Regions from separate parts of the Homo sapiens genome. Here region 2 is linked to region 1. The links come from fine-mapping of genetic effects on gene expression. Tissue or cell type: tibial nerve. Region 1 holds a variant in brackets; the other region holds the start of a gene. All regions are shown on one strand. Distances are between the middles of the regions.

Region 1 (5,324 bases):
GAGGGATCCAGGCATTGTTAGCCTTGAAACAATCACTCAAGCTGCAGGGGGCTGGGGAAGCTTGCCATGGGAGAGTGAGTGAGGGGGGCAGGTGACTGAGACAGAGCAGTTAGGAAAGGAGGTAGGAAAACCCCAGACTGCCGTGGGCAGAGGGCATTTGCACATGTATGTAACACAGGCACCTACATGTGCACATGCACACAAATGCACACGGATGCACCAACACACATACATTCATGTGCACACACGTCTCAACATGTACACACATCCACAAACCATGCACAGGCAGAACACACACACCACACACATGCACACAGACACACATACATGCTTGTACCCCATGACACATTTGCATGCCTAGACTATGTACATACGTGCACACACGTGTGTACATGCATGTGAGTACATGCACACAAAACACCCATGCGTACCCACGTATACGGGCCCTTACATGCACACCTGCATGCACACATGTACACATGATGCGTGCATGCACAGGCCTGTCTAGAAGTGGGGACTTGGCTGTGTCAGTGCTGCTGAGGGGCTGAGGGAACTGAGCACTGAGGGAGCTGACCACTGCGGAGCGCCCACTGGATTTTTCCACCTGGAGGCTGTCTGTGACTTTGTAGCAGCAGGGGAAGCTGGGATGAGAAGAGCAGCTGGAAAGGAAGTGGGTCCAGGCACTGCAGACCAGCCTTTTGAGAAGTTTGGCTGTGAGAGATGAGAGAGGGCAGAGGTGGGAATGGAGTGTGAAGTTCAGGAAACGCTCATTTTCTGAGCCTCACAGGAAGCAAAGGCCTCTCGAGGGGAGCCCTGTGTGAGGGGCTCTGGCAAGATGCCCCGACACACACATGCATCTTCCACACGCACCCTCTTAAAGGAGGGGGCTGGCTTGGGTGCTGGTGGGAAGAGGCTGGCCTGGAGGGGGAGTCACCGATGTAGGAAAGAGCTGGCTTTGAGGGCCCCTGTGGGAATGGTAGAAGTTGCTGGCTTTAGCAGGAGGAACAAAGGGCAGGGTGGCTGCTGTCACAGGCAGATTGGTGGCTTGGTGGCCAGATGTGAAGCCATGTCAGCCGGATCCCTCCAGTCTTCCGTTTTCTCTGTGCAGCAGGGAGGTTCTCCGCAGACCAAAGGTATGGAGAAAATGGACAGGTGGATCCACCCACAGCTGAGTTTTTCAGCCAAGAGTTCAGGACAGGAGGGCAAGGAACAAGGGAGTGTGTTGGCCGGAGGCTGGCTGCAGGCATGGGTCCTGGGGTCAGGTTGGGTAGGGAAGGAGGTGCAGATAGGAGGGCTGGTGGGCAGGGACTCAGAGAAAGACATTGGAGAGGAGCCAGGAGCGGCTGTGTGGTCGGAGGAGAGAGGAGAGCTGGTGAGGAGTGAGCCAGGCTGGGGGTCACAGGGCCAGGACGTAGCCGTGGGAGGGGCTGCCGGGCCACTGTTGAGTGTTGACTGAAGTAGGGCCTGGGACGAAGAGGAACCAGAGGGGGCTGTTGAGGGCCACTTGGGTGGGTGACAGAGGGAGCTGGGAGAAGGGCGCAAGTTGATGGTGAGAGAAGAGTGTGCACAGAGTTGGGTATCCGCAAGTGTGGAGGGGCTGGCAAGAGGCTGAGCTTGGGGGTCACCTTCCCCAGCTCCCAGGGCCCGGGAGTATGAAGGTAGAGCTGGTTCTCTGAGGTGTTGTCCTCACACAGAGTTGGGGTGGGTGACAGGGTGACTGGCCATCCAGTGGGGACACCACAGCCCTCATGAGGGGCTGTGGAGTCCTGGGGTGGGTGAGAATCTGCCCCATCTCAGGTCAGTTGAGTGGGGCTCTGGGAGAAGCCCTGGGGAGTGGCTGGTGGGACCCAAAGGCCTTCTGGCACCCCGCTGGCTCTGGGCTCCCAGGGCCAACGCTCCCTCCCTACTCATAGTAGCCTGGCCTTTCCAGAGCCCCCTCCAGCAGGGCTCCCCACAGCAGGTCCCCTCAGGCTGCTTGGGCTGGTGGGTCTGCCCTGAGCTGGCCCCTGACTCTCTTACATGTTCCACAGGACGATGGACCGCCGGACTCTTTTCTGCAGCACACGCCTGTGTGCTGTGAGCCCCCCACTCTGCCGTGCTCACACAGACACACCCAGCTGCACACATGAGGCATCCCACATGACACGGGCTGACACAGTCTCATATCCCCACCCCTTCCCACGGCGTGTCCCACGGCCAGACACATGCACACACATCACACCCTCAAACACCCAGCTCAGCCACACACAACTACCCTCCAAACCACCACAGTCTCTGTCACACCCCCACTACCGCTGCCACGCCCTCTGAATCATGCAGGGAAGGGTCTGCCCCTGCCCTGGCACACACAGGCACCCATTCCCTCCCCCTGCTGACATGTGTATGCGTATGCATACACACCACACACACACACATGCACAAGTCATGTGCGAACAGCCCTCCAAAGCCTATGCCACAGACAGCTCTTGCCCCAGCCAGAATCAGCCATAGCAGCTCGCCGTCTGCCCTGTCCATCTGTCCGTCCGTTCCCTGGAGAAGACACAAGGGTATCCATGCTCTGTGGCCAGGTGCCTGCCACCCTCTGGAACTCACAAAAGCTGGCTTTTATTCCTTTCCCATCCTATGGGGACAGGAGCCTTCAGGACTGCTGGCCTGGCCTGGCCCACCCTGCTCCTCCAGGTGCTGGGCAGTCACTCTGCTAAGAGTCCCTCCCTGCCACGCCCTGGCAGGACACAGGCACTTTTCCAATGGGCAAGCCCAGTGGAGGCAGGATGGGAGAGCCCCCTGGGTGCTGCTGGGGCCTTGGGGCAGGAGTGAAGCAGAGGTGATGGGGCTGGGCTGAGCCAGGGAGGAAGGACCCAGCTGCACCTAGGAGACACCTTTGTTCTTCAGGCCTGTGGGGGAAGTTCCGGGTGCCTTTATTTTTTATTCTTTTCTAAGGAAAAAAATGATAAAAATCTCAAAGCTGATTTTTCTTGTTATAGAAAAACTAATATAAAAGCATTATCCCTATCCCTGCAGCCTGTGGCTATGTCTGTGCTTGCTTCCTGCCAGGTGCTGGCCTGGTGCCGGGTGGAGGGGGCAGGATACAAGCCCCTCAGCGCCCTGGCCAGAACAGCAGACATCAGTGGAAAGTCC[A/G]GTTCTCGGGGCCCGCAGAGTAGCTGCACAGGCAGGCATCCTGGGAGAACAGGGCATAGCCTCAGGCGAGGGGGCCTGAGGTGTGTGCAGATGGCCCACTCGGGAATAGTAGGTGAGGCCTGAACCAGCACACGCGGCCTGTGAGCTTGCTGTGCATTCCCAGAGGTGGAGCATCCAAGCAAAGGACCTCATGGGCTTTGGGCCTGTTAAGGGCTCACCTGGAGGGTCATGGGTCACCTTTGCACTGACAGGGTGTTACTAGTGGGTTCTAGAGGAGAGCAGGGGACTGGAGGCAGGCCTGGGAGCTGGAGCAGAGCCGACTTGGGGGCCCAGGTCTCCGCAGACCTTTCCAGGAAAGAGCTAACAGATGCACCCAGTGTGCTTCCCACCCCAGTGGGAGAGCTGCCACCGGGAGGTGGTACCCAGCTCTGAGCTAAGAAGAGCCTCTGATGGGCAGAGCTGCCCCACTGTGGGTTGAGATGCTCGGGAAGTGGTGACCTCCCTGCTGCTGGAGGTGTGTAAGGATGCTCCTGCCAAGTCCACTAAAGAGCAGACTCCTGCCTTGTGCTGGGACAGACTCGATTGCTCAAGGGGTCTTAGAGATGTGACACCTAGAAGGGGCTGCTAAGCTTGTCTGCATGAAGGTGGGATGACCGATTGCATGACATCTGACCTCTCCCAGGTGAGGAGGCCTCAGGGAAGGAAGGATGCTCTCGTGGAGGCCTGCAGCCCCCAGCCCTGCAGTGGGAGGAGGTGTCCTGGGGTCGTGCTCTTCCCAGACTCCTCACACTCCACCCCTGGGAGGAGGGTGGAAGGAGTTCAGGAATGGGGCAGTGGGAGCAGGTGCCCTCTTGACGCTGAGTGACCTGGGGGAGGCCTGTCCCCTCCCTGGGCCTTAGTGTCTTCAAGGGCATCATGGTGCAAGCCCCTCCAGACCCCAGAGCTGTATCTTCTCCCCAAGGCATATCTGGAACAGGCTGTGTTGCCAGGGCCCTTCTGTGTGCCCTGCAGGCCTCCTGGAGGCAGCCTGGGGTGTGAGAATGAGGGAGACCATCTGGAAATGTCCCTGGGCACGCCCCTGTCTAAAGCAAAGCATTCACCACGGGGAGCCAGACTGGGAAGGAAATCTGTTTCTTCTTTGGGGACTGATCTCAAGGCCCTGCCTGCAGAGCAGAGCCTAGACCATGGCAGAGAGGTCTGTCCACACTGGACGATGCCCAGCTGCCCTGTGGTTATTGAGACAGGCTCCTGGGTAGGCTAGCTTATACTCTGTCTTCTGCATGTGACAGCTCAGATAGGACTGTCCTTACTGCAGCCACCAGGACAGGCTTCTCTGCACTCTGGCTGCCCATACAGGCCTGTCCACACACTGGCAGCCTAGACAGACCTGTCTACACTCCAGCCAAATGGACAAGCCTGTTAGATTCTGGCCACCTGCATAGGCCCGCCCATATCCTGGCTGCCCAGACAGGCCCGTCTGCACTCTGGCCGCCTGTATTAATTAGCCCAGTAGCTAATATCATATTTGCTGGCTAGCATAAGGTGTTGAAGCCCACAAGAAGTGAAAAACAAAATACCTTTATTTAGTTAACACTGAATTTGCAAACACAGAAAGGAATAGAAAACCTGACTCCACTTGGACGCACAGGCCTTTGGGGAGTTCTGACACCAGGGCCCCATCGGCAGCTCCACCAGAGCATCCTGGCTGCACCTCCTTCCCGGAGTCCTGGCTTGCCTACCTATTCCATGGGAGGTTGGCCTGGATGTGTCAAGGGGGCCTTTCAGCTCTAGTAAAGACATCTGTCTCCACATCCAAGGAGCTTTGCAAAAGACACGTGGCAGGACAGGAGACTGGACGCACTGTGGCCTGGGGAAGGCAGCGGGGCTTGGCCCTGGGCTGCTCCCCTTGGGGAGAACTGTGTGGCTGAGGCCACCTGTTATGGGGTGGGGCCTGGGCCTGGACACAGCTGCAGGCTGCCCTGTCCTCCAAGAGGAGAGGCGGGGCTTGAAAGATTTGAGTTAGTGTCTTGACCTTAACGTGAGACCTTGGACAAGTGTTTTCAGCTCTCAGAGCCTCAAGTCTGTCATCCAGAAAGTGGGGCCGGATAACCCCTGCCTGCCGCCCTCACCGGGCTCACACCGGGGAAACTGTCACAGCGGGGCCTCAGGCAATGCCGGGCCCATCA
Region 2 (5,000 bases), 57 kb after region 1:
TCTCTTTATTCTTGGTGGTTTTACCTTTTAAAAATCCCATTACTAAAATGTTAGTGGAATTCTAGGAAGGAGGGAAAAAAATGGATACACCTGTGATTCACCATGGTTTAACTGGAAGTCTCAAAATGCTCAGTATTTTTAAATGAGACACTCATACACCAAGATAAAATCCTGTGATTTTATCAAGGATAAAAGTTCTTTTTCACAAATAGAACATTCTACCATTTTCCATATTGTTTATGATTTTTGCCTGTTGCATAAGCTTACAAAACAAGAAGTGTTTAGTTTCTGAGTCACAGGCAAAGAGATCAAACAGAGAAATCCCAGATTTCAAAGTAAGATGCTGAGAAAGCCAGTTTCTGCCAAATAATTGTTCTAAGCCTCTACATCCTTCCTTCAATTTATCTGGCAGGTTAATCCAGACTGGAATACATTTGCATTTCCAAACAGATGGGAAAGGCAGCTTTGGCAAAGTAGGCCCCAGATGAGTTTGGCTTTTAATAATAGGCATTCCAATTTGTTTTCACAAAATAATCTTCCTGCAGGAGATATATTTTTGTTGCTGAGGAAAATTAAAGAGAACAGATTGCAGATTTTTTTGTTCCATTGCCAGTTTAATGCAGCAGATAGTTGAGCGTTCTCTCTGTGCCTGACACAGGGCTAGGCTCACGTTTTGGTTAAAAAAAAAAACAAACCCATATGTTGTTCAGCAATATGCAGCTTGGTGGGAGAAAGAGACACCCATATAACCAGCTCTGAAGCCAGGCAGCCAGCAGCGGGGTTACAGTTACTTTCATCAGCTATGGATGATGAGATGGTTCCTGATGTAGATAGGACTTTAACAGGTACATAAGGGAGGGAGGGGGAAGTAACACGTAGTAAGCACCTACTGTATGCTGGGCATTGATGAATCCTTGGTTTATTCCTCATAATAATTCTAGTAGACATATACTGCCCCACATCCCATTTTACAGACAAGGAAACTGAGGCCCAGGGAGGAGAGAGGATATTGCCTAGCCATTTGCTAGCAGAGTCAAAGTTCAGGGTTTCTCTGCCTCCAGAGTCCATGCTTCTTCCTAAATAACTGCTCGAGGCTTAACAGGGTCACTATAGTCGTGGCTCAGTTCTCCAGGAGTGGGTGTTTTCCTTTTAATGGAAGACAAAGTCTAATGCCTGACCCCAGTTGTAGAGATGGCATTAGACATTAGTGAGCTGCGGGAAGAGGACTTTCTGGGAATAGGGACTCTTCCAGGAGCCCATTGACAAAGCCTCTCTCCTTGACCACACTTTAGACAGGCTCCTCTGAGCCCTCTTTTCCACTGGGCTTTGTCCTTGGGCCTTGTCTTCAGCCTGCATAGTCCAGCTGTAGCAAAAGTCCTGCCAAGTCAGTTTAGTGAGGATCCCTCACCCTCCAGCATCCTGATACTGGATCAAATTCCTCATCCCAGATCAATGTCTGATCACCCTGGCCTGCCTTCAACAAGAATCCCCCTACCCTGATGTCTCCTGTAGTCATTTTCTGTCCCCGACCCCCTCCCTCTGCTCGCTGGCTATAAATCTCCAGCCATCTTTGTTGTATTTGTGGTTGGGTCCCATCTCTCTCCCCAGGAGGTCTTGATAACTACCCCCCTACCACAATAGTCCTGAATAGAGCCTTCCTTACCAGTTTAACTAGTGGCAGAATGATTTTGTCCTTAACACCATGGGAATGTCCCTCCCTCTCCTGTAGGAGATGGGGGCTGACAGGGAAAGGGGCTCTTTCCCAGGAAACGCAGCTTCTTCATGGCAGTTACACAGGCTGGAAACCCGGGGCCTGGCTCCCCTTCCTGTCCCCCAGCCCACATCCAATCGGCCCCCACATCCTGAAGCTCCCCCTTTTGAAAACAGTTCTCACGTCTGTCCCTTTTGTCTGCACTGCCGCATCTCCCCCAGGCTGCCCCTTCTCGGCCCCCTGCCTGCCCCAGAATCACCCCCTCTCCACTCAGCACCTGAGGGGTCTCCCAAGCTCCAAACTGGCCTGTCGCTCTTCTGCCCAAAAGCATCTCATGGTTGCCGCAAGCCCACGTGTGGCGATGGGACCTATGGGCCTGCTGGCCTCTGCGCTCCGGCCGCTGCACCTGGCATCTGCTGTCACCTCTGCCTAGAGCACGCTTCCTGGATCTCTTGTCATTTGAGCAGCCTTTAGGAGGTGTTCTCTGGTGCCTGTTTGAACTCACACAAGACCCCCCTCTTTCCCCGCCACAGCTCTTGGCCCTGTGTTTGTCATCATGAGGCACCCTCGCCTCTCCTCACCTGATGGTGCTGGGTTTGTAATCACTCCCCAGCCACATCACTGGTTCTTCCCTCTAGTCCTGCAAAGTGTTTATCACACCCATGTTACAGATGAGAAAACCAGGACCCAGAGAGGCAGAGGGATTCACACACTGTCATGGCACCAGGGAGCTGTGATGCTAGAACGGGACCCCAGATCCCTCAGGCCCACACGCCCCTCCTGGACAGGGGTCCCGAGATGCTCTGGGTGGCTGACCTGTGGTGAGAGGCGCCGGGTCCTCAAGAAGAAGCCGAGGAGGCAGCCCACGATGACAGACAGCACAGACAGGATGAGGAGTCCATTCCGCCTGCACACGTCCCTCCCCCGTGCCAAGATGGCATGCGGCACCATGGTGAGCCTGGCCTGCTGGCAAGGGGCACAGCACCATTCCACGCATGAGAGCCCGGCCGGGGGCACAGGGTCTGGGCTGAGGGCTCTAGCCCCTCAGCAGGCAGGTGGTCGGAGTTGCTAAACACCAGTCGCCAGCCCCACGGCCATGCCCGTGTGGCCGCCTTAGAGGGAAGCCACAATCCTATTACCAGCTGCATCATTAGGAGCTGGGAGCAGATTAGGGCCTGGGAAATTAGAGCAGACCACGTGGTCTAGGAGTTCAGGCCTCAAAGCCAAGCGTTCCTCTTAAACAGTTGAGTGGACCAGGTACTGGAAGGAACAAGAGGAACATTTGCTTGGTTGGTTTGATCTTTACCCCTGCTTCCTTCCAGAAAGAATCAAAAACAAGACAGTAAGATATCAGTTTCCCTCAACATTAATTAAGCATTTACTATGCACCAGGTGCCATTCTAGAAGAGTGTTACATGTACTGGCATATTTAATCCTAACACCAATCCCAAGAAATAAGTACTATTAATATCACCATTTTACAGATAAAGAAACTGAGGTGGGTGGGTGCATGTGCTGCGGGCCAGGCCTGTGCTGGCTGCCTTAGCTATGCCAATCATAGGGAATTGTCCCAAAGATCCCAGGGTTCCCACCTTCATTTTTCAGAAAGGGAGGCTGAGACCCCAGAAGCCAGTCCCTTGGCCATGGTCACAGAGGTCAGAAGTCAGGGCTAGGCCAGTCTGTTTCCACCACATGAACAGGCAGATAGGTTCAAGGGTGCTTGGCAGTATTGTGGGGAATGTAGATTCGAGTCCAGGGGACCTGAGTTCAAAGGTGGGCTGTGCCACTCACCGGGAAATGGGACGTAGATGCTTCAGGGCTGTTTCAAGCCTGGTGCTGGGCACCCTGCAGGCTCTCTGGGCCTATTATTTTTTAAAGATGACAGAGCCCAAGAGACCCACATTCGGGTCCCAGCTCTGCCACTTACTAGCTGTGTGACCTCAGACAAGCATTTCATCTCACTGTGCCTCAGTTTCTCCATCTGTAAAATAGAGATGATAACAGCATCTACTTTGTTAGGGCTGGTACAAAATTCCACCCAGAGGGTATTTGGAAACGCAGTGTGAACCCTGGTGTGCTGAACAGGGGAACGGACTCTTAGGGTCATTATCACACTTAGTGCTTTGGAGAATAGGTGTCTTTTTGCTATTTCTTGTGGCCTGGCCTGCCCTGCCCTGTAAAGCCTGGGGGAATTAACCCTCGTCTATTTCACCAGAGATCTGTAATCTCATTAGGAGCAGTCAGGCAGCAGGCAGCAGGGAATGGGAAGTGCAGTCTGCAGTGAGGGTGGGAGGTAAAGGGTGGGGTGCACACAGGGGCTTCCTCCTCCTGACATAGGAGACAGGGGCAGAGGATGAAGAGGACGGGCCAAGTGGGGCATAGGGGAGAGGTGGGGAGAGGGGACTGGGGCACAGGCTCTGAAGCCATGGACAGAGCTCCTGACTGAGAAGATTCTGATCCCAATTTAATCAGCTCTGTGACCTTGCCGTCTCTGGGTATCAGTCTTGTCCTTTTTAGAATGAGAGAAATGGGCCCAGGTACCTTTGTCAAAGGAACTTCATTTCAACAAACCAATCTTCCAAAGCCCCTGCTCTTTGCAGTAGCTTGGGGTGGGGGGTGGGGGTGAATACAAGTCTGAGAGTTTTTTTTCCTCTGACTTTGACTCTTAAAACCAAAAGTTTCTTGCTACACCTTCAACTCCAACAAATGCCTCATTTTCCAAATAATCAGGTGGTTAGTTACTTCCCAGAAGAGAAAATATGCTAAGTAGGTATTTGGATTTGGGTTTTGATCAACTCCTGGGCTCAAACAATCCTCCCATCTTGGCCTCCTAACGTGTTGGGACTGCAGGCATGAGCCACCACACCCAGCCCAGACCTGGCCTTTAGCTGTGCCATGATATAGGTGAGTCTTGCTTTCTACCACAGCTCCATGACTCCCATTCCCAGGACGTGCCCTATAGCCACCACTGACTCCTCTCTCCCACAGGCTGAGCCTACCACTACCTGCCTACCAGACTACAGCCATTCTTTCCACTGTTCCTACGGTCTTCAACAGGAGAATTTCAACTCACTCTAGCAAATGTTCTTATAGCACCATTTAGTGTGCCACACCCCCTGGGTACTAGAAACACAACAGTGAATCAGACAGTACCTGCCCTGCCTTCAGGAAGCTTATAAGAAAGTGGAGAGACCCCAAGAACGGACTAATTCACACTAAAGTGTAAGTGACTGATAATGAGTTTACTAAGAATATTTGCAAATCAAATCAAGTCTCCTGGGTCAGAACC

What was found. PIP is the estimated chance that this variant, and not a neighbour inherited with it, causes the effect.
Region 2: SLC1A7 starts here. The variant in region 1 is fine-mapped to the expression of SLC1A7 in tibial nerve (GTEx, PIP 0.98).

What each region holds. Positions count from the first base shown.
Region 1 is chr1:53,082,483-53,087,806 of GRCh38, forward strand. PODN (podocan) reads left to right here. Exons shown (of 11, transcript NM_153703.5): 11 at 2,031-3,012. It overlaps SLC1A7 (solute carrier family 1 member 7), which reads right to left. Exons shown (of 11, transcript NM_006671.6): 11 at 4,701-5,324. Among named protein-coding and RNA genes, the nearest start is that of PODN, 23 kb to the left of the region's middle. The variant A/G (reference allele first, on the strand shown) is at 3,139.
Region 2 is chr1:53,139,788-53,144,787 of GRCh38, forward strand. SLC1A7 (solute carrier family 1 member 7) reads right to left here and starts at 2,851. Exons shown (of 11, transcript NM_006671.6): 1 at 2,528-2,851. The coding sequence starts at 2,662.